Linked DNA regions of Homo sapiens. The protein of the gene in region 2 purifies or fractionates together with the protein of the main gene of each other region. This does not show direct contact. Each region holds a gene or a part of one and is shown on either strand. Other genes may lie near its edges.

Region 1 (3,648 bases), on a different chromosome or scaffold from region 2:
ATGGGAGACATGGAGGGAGAGAGGCGGGAGACATGGAGGGAGAGAGGCAGGCAGACGCAGACCCTCAGCCTCCCCCTCAGTTCCCCTCAGAAAACTGCTTTTCCTCAGAACTTGGCTCACAATCCCTTTCTCTGTGGAACCCACCCTTGGGTTGTATCCTTCCTCTTCCGTCTTTTTTTTTTTGAGATGGTCTTGGCCATTGCCCAGGCTGGAGTGCAGTGGTGCGATCACAGCTCACTGCAGCCTAGACTCCTGTGCTCAAGCGAGGTTCCCGCTTCAGCCTCCCAAGTAGCTGAGACTACAGGTGTGTGTCACCACGCTGGCTAATTTTTAAATGTTTTGTAGAGACGAGGTCTCACTATGTTGCCCAGGCTGGTCTCGAACTCCTGGGCTCAGCCTCCCACAGTGCTGGGATTACAGGTGTGGGCCACTGTGCCCGATCCTGTCCTCTTTCTGAGCCTCTGGTATACCTTTATTAGGTTGCTGATGTTAACCTGTGTGTCTGTCCCCGAGTGAGGTGGTGCGGTCACATTCTGTGCATCTGGTGCCCAGTGTCAGTCTGTCATGTGGAGGCCAGTGGCTGGGCTGACAGGAGGCCTGGGTCCCTTGGCTCTGTGATCATCCTGTCTGGACTGTGGCAGCCTCCTCATGGGTCACCATGTGCTGAATGCTGGAGGACATTGTGTGCCACCTCTTAGGAGCCGCCCTCACCAGCCTCCTCTCTCTTTTTCGGCCCGTGTCCCCTTCTTTTTTTGTTTGTGTTTGAGACGGAGTCTCACTCTGTCACCCATCTCACCAGTGAGCTGGTACAATCTCAGCTCACTGCAACCTCTGCCTCCCAGGCTCAAACCATTCTCCTGCCTCAGCCTCCAAGTAGCTGGGATTATAGGTGCCTGCCACCTCACCGGGCTAATTTTTGTATTTTTAGTAGAGACAGGACTTTGCCATGTTGGCCAGTCTGGTCTCGAACCTCCTGACCTCAAGTGATCTGCCCACCTCGGCCTCCCAAAGTGCTGGGATTACAGGCGTGAGCCACCACGCCCGGCCCCCTGGCCCCTGGCCCCTTCTGTGTGGGCCCCATCTGAGAGCCATTTCCCAAATCTGAGAGCCATTTCCCTAGTCGGCTGTGAAATCGGATGGTGTTTGTAGTCAATCAGTTGTTTTTTTACTGTTGTGGAGTTTACCAGGGACTCTCCAATCTCTCTCTCGTTTCCTCTCACACCTCCTCAAGGCAGCAGCACGGACTTCCCCTTGCAGGTGGGGCCGAGGCTAGGCTGCACGGCTGACGGGGGGTTTGGGGGCCCTGAGATGAAGCGAGAGCGCTGACCAAAGCATTGGCAAGTTCTCCTGTACTTTACTGTTGGGCTTTTGGTAGCATTCTCTGCAAAATCATTTCTAAATGTGGACTTAATTTGGAGAAATTTGAGACTAAGTGCTTTATTTTTTAACTTGGTCACAAAATTTGGTCTTTTTCTTGTTATAAATTGGTGGCATTAAATGCTTTGTACTTAGTTCTAATGGAGAATCGGTGCAATCTCTCCTTTTGACTCATCTGTGGCCCTACATGATGGTCACCCATGTCATTATCCCCAGGGTGGACAATGTCCCAGAAGGAAGCCTGCCAGTGCACGGTGAACAGGCGCTGCCCAAGGACCAGCAAATCACTGCCTTGGGGAGAGAGGAACCTGTGGCAATAGAGAGCCCCGGACAGGATCTTCTGGGAGAAAGCAGGTCTGAACCAGTGGATGTGAAGCCATTTGCTTCCTGCGAAGATTCTGAAGCTCCAGTCCCAGCTGAGGATGGGGGCAGTGATGCTGGCATGTGTGGCCTGTGTCAGAAGGCCCAGCTAGAGCGGATGGGAGTCAGTGGTCCCAGCGGTTCAGACCTTTGGGCTGGGGCTGCCGTGGCCAAGCCCCAGGCCAAGGGTCAGCTGGCGGGGGGCAGCCTCCTGATGCACTGCCCTTGCTATGGGAGTGAATGGGGCTTGTGGTGGCGAAGCCAGGACTTGGCCCCCAGCCCCTCTGGGATGGCAGGCCTCTCGTTTGGGACACCTACTCTAGATGAGCCGTGGCTGGGAGTGGAAAACGACCGAGAAGAGCTGCAGACCTGCTTGATTAAGGAGCAGCTGTCCCAGTTGAGCCTTGCAGGAGCCCTGGATGTCCCCCACGCCGAACTCGTTCCGACAGAGTGCCAGGCTGTCACCGCTCCTGTGTCGTCCTGCGATCTGGGAGGCAGAGACCTGTGCGGTGGCTGCACGGGCAGCTCCTCAGCCTGCTATGCCTTGGCCACGGACCTCCCTGGGGGCCTGGAAGCAGTGGAGGCCCAGGAGGTTGATGTGAATTCGTTTTCCTGGAACCTCAAGGAACTCTTTTTCAGTGACCAGACAGACCAAACGTCATCAAATTGTTCCTGTGCTACGTCTGAACTCAGAGAGACACCCTCTTCCTTGGCAGTGGGCTCCGATCCAGATGTAGGCAGTCTCCAGGAACAGGGGTCGTGTGTCCTGGATGACAGGGAGCTGTTACTACTGACCGGCACCTGTGTTGACCTTGGCCAAGGCCGACGGTTCCGGGAGAGCTGTGTGGGACATGATCCAACAGAACCGCTTGAGGTTTGTTTGGTGTCCTCTGAGCATTATGCAGCAAGCGACAGAGAAAGCCCAGGACACGTTCCTTCCACGTTGGATGCTGGCCCTGAGGACACGTGCCCATCAGCAGAGGAGCCAAGGCTGAACGTCCAGGTCACCTCCACGCCCGTGATCGTGATGCGCGGGGCTGCTGGCCTGCAGCGGGAGATCCAGGAGGGTGCCTACTCCGGGAGCTGCTACCATCGAGATGGCTTACGGCTGAGTATGTCCCGGGCCCCATAGGAAGAAGTGTGGTGCTCCCAGAGCACAGTGCAGTGGGGGTGCAGGGCCTTCCTTGTTCTGGGGTCTGATGGGGTTTCACCCTGGAATAGTGTTAGCAGAAATCATGTTTTCAAGGAGAATGCATATCATCCACCCCTAGAAAATTAAGATTACGAATGTGTGTGCCTGGGGAGGGTGGCGCCCAAGGTCCCAGGCCACCTGCCCCATGCCCGTCAGTTCCAGCTGTGCCCCCTGACTCAGGCCATACACTTAGAGAGCCGCTCCTCCCAGCAGCCTGGGGAGATCCCGTCGGGAGCAGGAGAAGCGTGGGGGTGTCACGCTAGAGTCTGTCTCTCCACCTCCCACCAGCCCCCACCTCAGTGGTCACACAGACAGGCCGAGAGGGATGTGAGCGTGGTGAGATGCTCACGTGTTCTTCTTCCGTGCTTTTGGTGTTTAGGCTGCCCTGATCTCTGAAAAACCTGCCCTTCTGTGAGGGTCATGTGATCGGGCCCCTCTGCTTGCCCCTTTGAGATTGATTCTGTTTTACTTTCTTTTTTATTTTCATTTCTTTTTTTTTTTTTTTTCTTTTTTTTTGAGACAGAGTCTCTCTCTGTTGCCCAGGCTGGAGTGCAGTAGCGCGATCTCAGCTTACTGCAAGCTCCGCCTCCCGGGTTCATGCCATTCTCCTGCCTCAGCCTCCCTAGTAGCTGGGACTACAGGCACCCACCAGCACGCCCGGCTAATTTTTTCTATTTTTAGTAGAGACGGGATTTCACTGTGTTAGCCAGGATGGTCTC
Region 2 (3,648 bases):
GAAGGCAGTAGAGGACAAAGGGTTACCAGGCCCAGCATTGCACATGGGCCAAGAAGGGTGGGGGCAATGCCTAGCGGGTGGGAGGATGCTCTGAGATAGCTCTGTTCCCCCCAGGAAGCCCCAAGGTGGCCCCTGCCTGTGAAGAGGCTGAGCTTGCCCTCCACCAAGCCACAGCTTTCTGAGGAACAGGCTGCTGTGCTGAGGGCCGTCCTGAAAGGCCAGAGCATCTTCTTCACTGGGAGTGCAGGTAGTGGGGGCAGAGAGGAGGTAGGGGGACAGTGGTGGGGTGGGATAGAGGAACAGGGAGACCTGTCTAACTTTGCCCCTGTCCAGGAACAGGGAAGTCATATCTGCTAAAGCGAATCCTGGGCTCACTGCCCCCCACAGGCACTGTGGCCACTGCCAGCACTGGGGTGGCAGCCTGCCACATCGGGGGCACCACCCTCCATGCCTTTGCAGGTAAGTAGGAACCCCTAGGGCTTGAGCTAAGAGCAAGCCCAGCTTCTGGGAAGGGAGAGAGGGGAGGTCTGCATAAAGAGGGAGTTTTGGGGGCTGGGCGCCGTGGCTCACTCTTGTAATCCCAAAACTTTAGGAGGCCAAGGTGGGAGGATCGCTTGAGCCCAGGAGTTTGAGACCAGCCTGGCCAACACAGTAAACCCTGTCTCCACAAAATTTAAAAATTAGCGGCCGGGCGCAGTGGCTCACGCCTGTAATCCCAGCACTTTGGGAGGCCGAGGCAGGCGGATCACAAGGTCAGGAGATCAAGACTATCCTGGCTAACACGGTAAAACCCTGTCTCTACTAAAAATACAAAAAAATTAGCCAGGCATGGTGGCAAGCGCCTGTAGTCCCAGCTACTCTGGAGGCTGAGGCAGGAGAATGGCGTGAACCCAGGAGGCAGAGCTTGCAGTGAGCCGAGATCACGCCACTGCACTTGAGCCTGGGCGACACAGCGAGACTCCATCTCAAAACAAAACAAAACAAAATTAGCTGAGCATGGTGGTGTGTGCCTGTAGTCCCAGCTACTATGGAGGTTGAGGTGGGAGGATCGCTTGAGCCCATGAGGCCCAGGTTACAGTGAGCCAAGATCGTGCCACTGCACTTCAGCCTGGGTGACAGAAAGAGACCTTCTCTCAAAAAAAAAAAAAAAAAAAAAAAAGAGAGGCTTTGGGTATTAGCCCAGGCTGAATAGTGTCACTCACAGGCATCGGCTCAGGCCAGGCTCCTCTAGCCCAGTGTGTGGCCCTGGCCCAAAGGCCAGGCGTGCGGCAGGGCTGGCTGAACTGCCAGCGGTTGGTCATTGACGAGATCTCAATGGTGGAGGCAGACCTGTTTGACAAACTGGAGGCCGTGGCCAGGTCAGTATGTTCAGAGGGCAGCAGGTGAGAACTGGGACCTGGTGGTCTTCTGTGTGCCCCTAAAGCACCCCACGCTCCTCTCCAGAGCTGTCCGGCAGCAGAACAAGCCATTCGGAGGGATCCAGCTCATCATCTGTGGGGACTTTCTGCAGCTGCCACCTGTGACCAAGGGCTCCCAGCCCCCACGGTTCTGCTTCCAGGTATTACTCACCTCCTAGCTCTGCTCTCCTTGGGGGTCTGCTCTGCTCCTTGACCCACCCCCACCCTGCCCCCACCAGTCCAAGAGCTGGAAGAGGTGTGTGCCAGTGACCCTGGAGCTGACCAAGGTGTGGAGGCAGGCAGACCAGACCTTCATCTCTCTACTGCAGGCCGTGAGGCTAGGCAGGTGAGCTCTGCTGGTTGGGGAAGGGGCTATGGGATGAGGATCCAGGCATGGGCCACAGTGGAACACAGAGAGGGACTCACAGAAGGGGTAGAATTGTTACCCTCAGGAGCAAGCACTCCATGCAGGAAGAGGAGCCTTGGGCAGGGCACTGGACAACTCAGGATGGATTGTAGTCAAGACCATCATGGCACCATAGGAGATGGTTGCTCTGAGTGCTGGGACCTAGCCTCCCTCAGGGTTGGGTCTCCATCACCTAGCACAAGGCCTGGCATAAAGTAGGTGTCAGGGGCTGGGCACGGTGGCTCACGCCTGTAATCCCAGCACTTTGGGAGGCTGAGGCAGGCGGATCACAAGATCAGGAGTTTGAGACCAGCCTGGCCAACCTGGTGAAACCCAGTCTCTACTAAAAATACAAAAATTAGCTGGGCGTGGTGGCACGCACCTGTAGTCCCAGCTACTTGGGAGGCTGAGGCAGGAGAATCGCTTAAACCAGGGAGGCAGAGGTTGCAGTGAGCCAAGATCATGCCACTGCACTGCAGCCTGGTGACAGAGCGAGACTCCGTCTCAAAAAACAAAAACAAAACAGAAACATAAGCTAGATTTTTCACCCAAGGTAGGAGGCAAGTGGATAGAAGATTGTACCCTGGAGGCCAATCTGGGTCCTGCAAATCTCCAGCCTGTGCTCACTCATCATAGCCAACTTCCTCAGGAGTATTATGGAGTGCGAGGGTGGCCAGCTCTGACCTGGGGCAGCACAGGGAAGGGTGCCCACATGTGATCAAAGCTCAGTACCCTGCCCCTGCTTATTCCCCATGTTTGGGGTCCAAGTTTGGAAGGGACAGGTTGGCCAGCTTGAGGGGGCAGCAACTCTTCCCTGGTGCCCTCTTCCAGTCCCAAGGCCTGACCCATGGCCTGCTGCTTGAGCCATCCTGCCCATGTTCCCCACCTCCCCTGCTGCACAGGTGGGCTCTGCCCTGACAGTCCAGCCCCAACAGGTGTTCAGATGAGGTGACCCGCCAGCTCCAGGCCACAGCTTCCCACAAGGTGGGGCGAGATGGGATTGTGGCCACGAGGCTCTGCACCCACCAGGATGATGTGGCCCTCACCAACGAGAGGCGGCTTCAGGAGCTGCCAGGTGAGCAGGGAGCCTGGGCTGGGCAAGACCAGCTGGGAAGAGTTATAAGCAGATGTAGCCCCCAGGCAACCTGGGCCTCTGGGTCCTAGGCCCCCAACCTCTGAAGCCATAAAGGCCCTCATATTTGCAAATGCAACTGTGACTTTGAGAGGTGTGATGAACTAAATTCCACAGCCCCCCAGGCCTGCGCTGCCTCTACTCCCTACCCCCGTGCTCTGGTCTAATAGTTTTTTTTGGAGGCTGGGAGCGGTGGGTCATACCTGTAATTCCAGCACTTTGGGAAGCCGAGACAGGCAGATCACCTGAAGCCAGCAGTTCGAGACCAGCCTGCCCAACATGGCAAAACCCCATCTCTACTAAAAATAGAAAAAAATTAGCCAGATGTGGTAGTGGGCACCTGTAATCCCAGCTATTCGGGAGGCTGAGGAGAATTGCTTGAACCCAGGAGGCAGAGGTTGCAGTGAGCCGAGATCACGCCTTTGCACTCCAGTCTGGGCAACAGAGCGAAACTCCTTCTCAAAAAATAAAATTAAATTAAATTAAAATTTAAAAAAAGTCTTTTTTGGGATGCTGAGTCACAAGTCAGTGATTTGTGATCTGTTTGCTCAACTCTTTTTCTCCAGGTAAGGTACACAGATTTGAGGCTATGGACAGCAACCCTGAGCTGGCCAGTACCCTGGATGCCCAGTGTCCTGTTAGCCAGCTCCTTCAACTAAAGCTGGGGGCCCAGGTGAGTGGGAAGCAGGGCCTAGCCCCTGGGAGCTTGGGCT
Region 3 (3,648 bases), on a different chromosome or scaffold from region 2:
AGCAGATATCCATAAGCTATGCCAGCACATGCTTTAACCACATTATTCTCTTCTCTAGGGGCGTGCTGATGTGTACCCTGCTTCCACCCTCTCCACTGACAGCCAGAACACACAGAATTCACCAGAGAAGCAGGGACTCAAGGGCACAGAAAACATGCAGCACAAGACAAGTCACTGGCATATCACTAAGCTGACCTGGCAGAGGCTGAACACCTCACTGTCTAGAGTAATCACCCTTTCCAGGCAGAAGGCTTTTCTTCTCCCTCCCATTCACTAAGTTCACAATTTCTGAGTAGCTCACTGTGACTTTCCACCCCCCACTCCAGAGTTGAGTTACTCTCTTCTCCAGAAAACCAAGGGCCTTCCTGTTGTCCTAAGCCTATCTTTTTTCATCTAGTTGGAACTGATATCGTGATGCTCATATACTTCACAAACTGACTCAGCAGGCTCTTACTGTAGAAAATGACTGACCAGCCTTTCTCCTAAATGTGGACACAGGCCCAGGCAGAACTGCTCACATTCATTATCAATCCATGAGTCCTATACTTTCTTTCCCCACGTCCACCTAATACAGATCTCAAAGCCTTTCTACCAGGATAATCTTGCCTTATAGCTCTCTTTTGTTTTTTGTTTTTGTTTTGTTCACACAAATCCCTCTCAGCTAAGCTCATCATACTCAAGTCTGTGCTAAGCCAAAGGTTTTCTATCACATTATATAGCCTTTACAGGTACACTGACACATAGCCATAACTTGTGCAGCAACACACTCTCTGTTCTGAAAGGGATTACATCTTTTGTCTCCAGAATGCTATGGTAGATTCAAAATAGAAGTCAAGAATTGTTAGAATAACAGTAAGACATGCTGTGATTTCACTTCCATTCCTTATCCACCCCCATCGAAAAGTATCCCAGATGCAAGATCTTAGCTCCTTTTTTTTTTTTTTTTTTTTTGAGATGGAGTCTCACTCTGTGGCCCAGACTGGAGTGCAGTGGCATGATCTCGGCTCACTGCAACCTCCATCTCCCAGATTCAAGTGATTCTCCTGCCTCAGCCTCCATAGTAGTTGGGACTACAGGTGTGCTCCACTACGCCCAGCTAATTTTTTTGTATTTTTAGTAGACACGGGGTTTCACCATGTTGGCCACGCTGGTCTCGATCTCCTGACCTCGTGATCCGCCCGCCTCGGCCTCCCAAACTGCTGGGAGGCATAAGCCACCGCACCAGGCCTCTTTTCATTATTAGACTATCTCACACACTCATTGAGTCACATAGCTTGCCCATAATTACAAAGTAGAACTAAATTCCATCTACTTTGTTTAAATGGTACATACTTTGTATTCTTTTCACATACGAAGTTCTTTCAAATTTCAAATACTGAATGTACTTTTCATTTCTTTATTCATTATTTCCACTCGTAACACTCTGGAGGGGAAGTGATTTCATATTAGTTTTTACCTGGTGGTGTTGTTTTAATCCAAAATGTAACCTGAATATTTCATTGACAAGTGAGCAGTCTCCACTAAGGTTAGCAGCTCGAACCTATCACACAGAAGACAAATAAAAAGAAATAAACGCTCATGCTCTATATATCTTTATGATATCAACCAATTTTTAAAAATTAGAAAAGAATATAAAATTAGCATCTTTGTCTGAGAAAAGAGTATTTGTGACACTTCTTCTTAAAGGACTTTTTAAACTCTATTGACAACGAGAGCAAATATCTATGAGCTATGCTAGACAATGCCAAATACACTGGAGAGATGGGGAAAAGTTCAATCGCCTACCAAAGGAAATTTTCTAAACTTTATGCGTAGCTTTACTGACAGAACTAATTTCTTTTGGAACCAAAAGTCAGAGAGCTAGACCTCAGAGTTAAACTACACACTCTACAAGATACAAATACTTGTAGAAATTGCCAAAAGTACTTCAAGAAAGCATTCTTGAAATAAACTGAGTTTCAATGTGACCTTAAAACTGAATGCATTAATATCTGAGACACTTTGAGAATATGCCCCTCCCAACCCTTGCCCGAATCTCCCTTGGAGCTTCCCTCAAACCTATATAAGTTCATGACCTTCCTCTAGGGACTTGATTGTCCTATGAAAAATGAAGCAATACAAAACACAAAGAATCAAGAACATTCCAAACTGGTCACGCTATGAGCATGACAGCCTGAAATTAGGACATATTTTCAGATTTACTATACTTCAATGAATGAAAAAGTCTTAGAACTACCCACATAGATTCTACAGGCAGCTTGACCACATTTTTGCTAATTCATTGCTAACAGAATGGCCCACTTCTTGTTCCTTCTTCAATATTATGGCCTCATTCCTCTGAGGAGCTCAAAGTACTTAACACACTTTAACTAGCTAAAAGGCATTAATTCTCACAGTACCCAAGAAAGAGACCTATTTAAAAATTCAGGTTTCAGTCTATTCTCCAAATAATTGGAATTATAATTAGATGCAGGGGGCTACATATTAATTTCAAGAGAAAGGGAAATAATCGAAGTTATATAGTATAGGCTTGAGATTTAGATTATTTTAATTAACTCTTCAATTAATGACATCCAAGTATATGCATATGCAGAATACGCTCTCTCTAGGAGCATATTCCAAGAGCAATCCAACGTGCTTAGTAATAAATATCTTTTTATGTTGTATTTTTGAAAAGAGCATGTTTTACTCTAGGGCAAGCAAGGAGCTCTATGGAAGGCAGCTGGGCAAGCTAGTTAAAAACACTAGTTGTAATCCTGCCTCTACCACTTACTAACTTTGGAATCTAAACAACTGTCTCACTTTCCACATATGTAAAACAGGGACAATAATAGTATAATATCTATCTCAGTAGGTTATTGTGAAGATTAAATAAGAATCTGTGCAAACAGAACAGTGTTTGGAACACAGCCCTCAGTAAATTTTAATTATTTTTTTATTTTTATTTTTATTATTAATGTCTCCTATGGAATACATTATAAAATATATTCCATAGGAAAAAATTAATAGCTTATTAAAGTCAGTCATCACTATTACTAGGACTTACAGGATATAGTTAAGAGAATTCTAAAAATACACTTTAAATTTCTCTAACTGTATATCAAAAATGGTATTCAATGTTAGTTATAAACCGAAATTCAAGACTAAGGTAGAACTATGACAGTAAGAAAAGGAATACATTTAAATAAATTACACTTGAATAAAATATTCAAGCATAGAGTATTCTGGAGAAAAATACAATAAAACTCACCTCTGAGCACGCCAAATGTCTGATGTTGGTGAACCAGTCGACATGGGCACGACAATGATCAAATGCATGAATAAGCTCGTGTGTGACCACTCTGTTCATATGGGCCTGATTATGGATATTATTCTGGCACAAAACTATCTAGGAGACACCAAAATAAAAGAAGTTCAGTGATTCTAAAATCTCCTTCCATAGACTCGATCTTCTCTCCCACATGACCTCACCTCTCCCCCACAAGCTCACCTGCCTGGAATATCTCTACCCACTCTTCTTCATTGGCCACACATCTACCCATGGGACAAGTCCTAGTCCTAAGTGTACATGCTCCAATTGCCTCGCCCAGTGACTAACTTCTCCCTTCTCCTCTCTCTGGACTACAGCAGTACTTAGATTAAGGACAC

What was found.
Region 1: the proteins of PIF1 (region 2) and PASK purify together in Homo sapiens (affinity purification with mass spectrometry; one large-scale study listed by BioGRID and IntAct). This does not show direct contact.
Region 3: the proteins of PIF1 (region 2) and ATP23 purify together in Homo sapiens (affinity purification with mass spectrometry; one large-scale study listed by BioGRID and IntAct). This does not show direct contact.

What each region holds. Positions count from the first base shown.
Region 1 is NC_000002.12:241,125,397-241,129,044, reverse strand, and holds part of PASK (PAS domain-containing serine/threonine-protein kinase), read left to right. Parts: intron 1-1,593; coding exon 1,594-2,849; intron 2,850-3,648. UniProt on the Homo sapiens protein: Serine/threonine-protein kinase involved in energy homeostasis and protein translation. Phosphorylates EEF1A1, GYS1, PDX1 and RPS6.
Region 2 is NC_000015.10:64,819,077-64,822,724, reverse strand, and holds part of PIF1 (ATP-dependent DNA helicase PIF1), read left to right. Parts: intron 1-114; coding exon 115-247; intron 248-333; coding exon 334-459; intron 460-1,204; coding exon 1,205-1,358; intron 1,359-1,443; coding exon 1,444-1,558; intron 1,559-1,636; coding exon 1,637-1,743; intron 1,744-2,705; coding exon of another isoform or gene 2,706-2,721; exon of another isoform or gene 2,722-2,738; coding exon 2,739-2,878; intron 2,879-3,501; coding exon 3,502-3,608; intron 3,609-3,648. UniProt on the Homo sapiens protein: DNA-dependent ATPase and 5'-3' DNA helicase required for the maintenance of both mitochondrial and nuclear genome stability. Efficiently unwinds G-quadruplex (G4) DNA structures and forked RNA-DNA hybrids.
Region 3 is NC_000012.12:57,951,498-57,955,145, reverse strand, and holds part of ATP23 (mitochondrial inner membrane protease ATP23 homolog), read right to left. Parts: intron 3,389-3,648; coding exon 3,251-3,388; intron 1,541-3,250; coding exon 1,457-1,540; intron 1-1,456.